Linked DNA regions of Homo sapiens. The protein of the gene in region 1 purifies or fractionates together with the protein of each later gene. This does not show direct contact. Each region holds a gene or a part of one and is shown on either strand. Other genes may lie near its edges.

What was found. The genes of interacting proteins can lie anywhere in the genome.
Region 2: the proteins of PRR12 (region 1) and BMP2K purify together in Homo sapiens (affinity purification with mass spectrometry, with the first as the bait; one large-scale study listed by BioGRID). This does not show direct contact.

Annotation. Positions count from the first base shown.
Region 1 is NC_000019.10:49,622,008-49,624,736, forward strand, and holds part of PRR12 (proline-rich protein 12), read left to right. Parts: intron 1-2,729.
Region 2 is NC_000004.12:78,780,026-78,782,849, reverse strand, and holds part of BMP2K (BMP-2-inducible protein kinase), read right to left. Parts: exon of another isoform or gene 956-2,824; intron 1-955. UniProt on the Homo sapiens protein: May be involved in osteoblast differentiation.

The sequences.
Region 1 (2,729 bases):
TTCTGGGATATTCTGGGATGGAATATCAGGGCTCTGAAATCCAGTGTTAAACTGGCTCTGAGGATTCTGGTTGGGATGTTAGTGTGGCACTGAGAATTCCGGGATAGAATGTTAGGGTAACTGAGACTTCTGGAATCGAATGTTATTCTGGCTTTGAGAATTCTGGAAGACTTGCAGTGATTCTGAGAATTCTGGGATGGATTCTAGGCTGGTACTAAGAATTCTGGGATAGGCTATTAGGCTGGTGCTGAGATGGCTGGTGGGAAGTTAGTCTTAGAAAATACGCAGGAAGGCCGGGCACAGTGGCTCACGCCTGTGATCCTAGCACTTTGGGAAGCCAAGGCCGGTAGATGGCCTGAGGTCAAGAGTTCGAGACCACCCTGGCTCTCTCAAAATAAAAAAAAGTGAAACCCCGTCTCTACTCAAAATAAAAAATTAGCTGGGCGTGGTGGTGGGCACCTGTAGTCTTAGCTTCCCTGGAGGCTGAGGCAGGAGAATCAGTTGAACCCAGGAGGTGGAGCTTGCAGTGAGCCAAGATGGTACCACTGCACTCCAGCCTGGGCGACAGAGCAAGACTGTCTCCAAAAAAGAAAAAAAAAACAGGCCAGGCGCGGTGGCTCACGCCTGTAATCCCAGCAGTTTGGGAGGCCAAGACGGATGGATCACGAGGTCAGGAGATCGAGACCATCCTGACTAACACAGTGAAACCCCGTCTCTACTGAAAATACAAAAAAATTAGCTGGGCGTGGTGGCGGGCGCCTGTAGTCCCAGCTACTCAGGAGGCTGAGGCAGGAGAAAGGCGTGAACCCGGGAGGCGGAGCTTGCAGTGAGGCGAGATCGTGCCACTGCACTCCAGCCTGGGCGACAGAGCGAGACTCTGTCTCAAAAAAAAAACAAAAACATATATATATATATATATATAGAGAGAGAGAGAGAGAGAGAGAGAGAGAAAGAGAGAGAGAGAGAGATATTAATATGACTGAGAATTTTGAGTGAGATAGTAGTTTTCTCAGAATGATGGGTGGGACGTTGGGATGACCGAGAATTCTGGAATGGATTCTTAGACTGGTGTGGAGAAATCTAAGCTGGAATGTTATGCTGACTCTGAAAATTCGTGGGTAGAGTGCTGGGTGGGTTGGAAAATTCTGGGTAGCATTAGGTTATAAAAACTCTGGAGGATATGAATCTAGTCTACAAATTCTGAGATGGATTGTTAGGCTGGCACTGAGGATTGTGGGTGAGATGTTACACTAGGGTAGATAATCCCAGTGTAGGATATTAGAGTAGGTCTGAGAAGTATGTGTTATTAGTCGGGAGTTAGAATTCTGGGATAGATGGCTGGGCGCGGAGGCTCATGTTGGTAATCCCAGCACTCTAGGAGGCTAAGGGAGGTGGATCACGAGGTCAGGAGACCAATAACAACCCATCCTGGCTAACATGGTGAAACCCCGTCTCTACTAAAAATACACAAAAAATTAGCCGGGTGTGGTGGTGGGTGCCTGTAGTCCCAGCTACTCGCGAGGCTGAGGCAGAATAATGGTGTGAACCCGGGAGGCGGAGCTTGCAGTGAGCCAAGGTCGCGCCACTGCACTCCAGCCTGGGCGACAGAGCGAGACTTTGTCTTAAAAAAAAAAAAAAAAGAATTCTGGGGTAGATGGGATGGTTAGGATAGGGCTGAGAATTCTGGGATAGATGGTTAGGATGGGGCCAATAATTCTGGGATAGATGGTTAGGATGGGGCCGAGAATTCTGGGGTAGGTGGTTAGGATGGGGCCGAGAATTCTGGGGTAGATGGTTAGGATGGGGCTGGGAATTCTGGGATAGCTGGTTAGGATGGGGCTGGGAATTCTGGGGTAGGTGGTTAGGATGGGGCTGGGAATTCTGGGATAGCTGGTTAGGATGGGGCTGGGAATTCTGGGGTAGGTGGTTAGGATGGGGCTGGGAATTCTGGGGTGGGTGGTTAGGATGGGGCCAGGAATTCTGGGGTGGGTGGTTAGGATGAGACCGAGAATTCTGGGGTAGGTGGTTAGGATGGGACTGAGAATTCTGAGGTAGGTGGTTAGGATGGGGCCAAGAATTCTGGGGTAGGTGGTTAGGATGGGACCGAGAATTCTGGGGTAGGTGGTTAGGATGGGACCGAGAATTCTGGGGTAGGTGGTTACGATGGGGCTGAGAATTCTGGGATAGGATAGGTGGTTAGGATGAGACTGAGAATTCTGGGGTAGGTGGTTAGGATGGGGCCGAGCATTCAGGGATAGGTGGTTAGGATGGGGCTGAGAATTCTGGGGTAGGTGGTTAGGATGGTGCTGAGAATTCTGGGGTAGGTGGTTAGGATGGTGCTGAGAATTCTGGGATAGGTGGTTAGGATGGGGCTGAGAATTCTGGGATAGATAGTTAGGATGGGGCTGAGAATTCTGGGGTAGGTGGTTAGGATGGTGCTGAAAATTTTGGGGTAGGTGGTTAGGATGGGGCTGGGAATTCTGGGGTAGGTGGTTAGGATGGGGCTGAGAATTCTGGGATAGATGGTTAGGATGGGGCTGGGAATTCTGGGATAGATGGTTAGGATGGGGCTGGGAATTCTGGGGTAGATGGTTAGGATGGGGCTGGGAATTCTGGGGTAGAATTTTGGGTGACATTGAGAATCTGAGCCAGGCCAGAAGGCACAGTGGAAGCATCACTGGTCAGGCCCAGCCTCCTCTGTCCTTTGAGGAGACTCTAGTTGTCTCTCC
Region 2 (2,824 bases), on another chromosome or scaffold:
ACAGGTGAATAGACCTTGGTTCTACCCCCAAAAAGCTCAGCATCCAAAAAAAGCTGTCAAAATTAACCACAAAATGTAAAACAATTTCACAATTGCATGTAACATACTTTTTTAAAAACTCAGCCACCTTTGTAGAATAAATAAAAATACAATGTCAATAAAGCAAGATAACTACAAGGGGGCATCTGGGTTATTTTTTTTCTTTCCTGTTTCAAGTTGTTAAGTGAAATGACACTGCCTTAACGGTTGTTTGTCTTCACCAAACTAGAAAACACAGAGTCCTCTGGCCTAAGTACAAAACCTTTGATGGTCCAGTAAAGAGCCCTCCATTGGTGCTCTTCAATTTGCAAATTAGGCCTTAAATTCTACTGAAGATCATCATCTGATTAAAAATAAAAAAATCAAGCACCATTTCCTTTGAGAAGTAGCTGAATGTTCATGGTATGGCCAACTTGTGTGATACAACATCAATTAAAACAGAGTCTGTCTAGCCTTAAGAATTTTACTATCTGGTAGTGGAGATGACAGAGGAACAGTAGTTAACAACCTTAGTGTTTCTAGGTGCTTACATAATTCCATCTCAAGACAGGTTAAATGTGACAAGAGGGAAAAAAGCAAATAGTTACAAGTGTCCACAGAAAGGAGGAAGTGATCATAACCAGTACTTAGGAAACAGGGATTACAGAGACAAAGGCAGAGTGCTAGGCAAGTACAAGATTCAGTCACGGACCAACAGGGAGTGGAGCACATTGCACCAGGCGCAAAGAGTATTCACCTAGCAAATAATTACAGGTAAGCTTTTAAAGATAAGAAGTGAGCATGAATAACTGTGAATGCCAGGCGAAAAAATGTGATCAAGTAAGATGACTTTGCAGCAACACAACTGCTCACTCCCTCCCCTTCTTGAAATACTCTCAAGTTTCCAGGTATCAGAGTGTCCTGGTATTCCTCATACCTCTCTAGCACCTTCTTCTTAGTCTTCTTCGCCCGCTCGAAATCAGTGGTACTCGGTACTCAAGACGTGGTTCCTGAACCGGCAGCATCTGTATCACTGAAAGAGTGGGCCTCACTCAGACATAATCAAAAGTTGGGGACCAGGCTCAGCACTTCTGTTTTACCAAATCCTCTGAATGTTTACAATGAACACTAATGTCTGAGACCAATGCACTATAGGAGTCCTTCAATGAGCACCTTCTCATTCTACACTCTCCCTACATCCATCCTCTCCCAGGGCTTTAAATAACAGCCAGGGCTCACTAATCAATCAGAAGTACCATCTCTAAGCCCAAACACCTTTGCTGAGTTCCAGACGACATACCCAGCTTCCCATTTGATATTTCCTCTCAGATATCTCATCCAAACACATCTCTAAACATGTCTGAACTACTGGCTGTCCTCCAAACACCTCAAAAAAAAAAAAAAAAATCTGTTCCTTCCTTATGTTCCCAAACGGTACTTTCACCTGAGAGATACATAAGCAAGTAATTCCTAACACTTCCTATGACCACCACAAGGTCTTCCCATTTAAGCATTATCATCTTCATCCCCACTGTCATCATTTTAACCTTATAATTTGTATACCTCTCTATACAGCAATCAGCATGATCTTGTAAAAATACAAATCAGAGCATGTCACTGCCCCAATTCAAACCCTTCAATAGCTTCCTGTTGCATTTCAGATAAAACCTAAACTCCTCAGCATGGTATACTAAGCCCCGGACCCTGGTCACCTTGCCAACATCATCTTGGATCTCTCTTACATGTGATTCATTCATTGTAGTCCACAGCTCTGAGCATATTTCAGTTTCTGAAACTTCCTTCCCTCACACAGAGACTTCAGTCTTCATGACATACTTCAAATCACCCCAACCTCACACCTCTGTTTTTACCTAACTTTCTTCATCCTTCAGGTTTCTGCTAAAAGATCAAAAAGGCCTTCCTTGACCCCCCAGTCTAAACTGAATTCTCTCATAAAACCCTGAGCATTGTCTTCACGACACATATAAAAAATTTTAACTATAGTAACTTGGTGATTTTTGTTGGCTTGTTTAGCTTTTACCTTCCACACTAATCTGTAAGTTTCATAGGCCAGAAGAATACCTCCACTATTGTCCTCTACTATGTTAAGTAGCACCTAGCAGTGCTTAGCACACCAAAGGCATTTAATGAAGTTGTGTAGTAGTAACAGTTGTTGATATTTTTATTCGATCCTTCCCTTTTTTCTATCCTCTCTATCTTCTCTTCGGAATGTGAACTTACAAGTTACTGGGCAGCCACAGATGCTTTCTGCAAATGAGATATAATGCTTAAATCTATCATTTCCCTACTAATTTATAGTGCAAAATCAGATGTATAGTACAACCTTCCTGAAAAATTAACAACGAGAACTGGCTAATACTTAGCTTATCTAAGCATTTAACTCTAAGAGAAATACTGAGCTATTTTTAAAGAACCCTGTAGTAAATTCCTGGCCTCCAATTACTAACAATCCAATAACCCCCAACACCCATCTCAGTAAATCTTACCCACATCACCATATTCACACTATCATTCCTACCCAGCCCCCATAACCTCGTGATTACATTATCTCAACAAGTTATCTCTGCTCTCCCAGTCTCAACACCCCATTTTAGGTCCATTTTGTACCAAGGACATTTAGGGAAAACAATGTCCCCTACTCAAAAACCAACTTATTATCAATCAGTATTAAATTCCTCAGACTAGCACCAAAGGCTTGTTATGGTGATGCATGTGGTCAACAAGCCAACCCCAGGTTTTAGTAAAAACTTGGAAGGTTACATTGAATTAATTATATGAGCCTGAC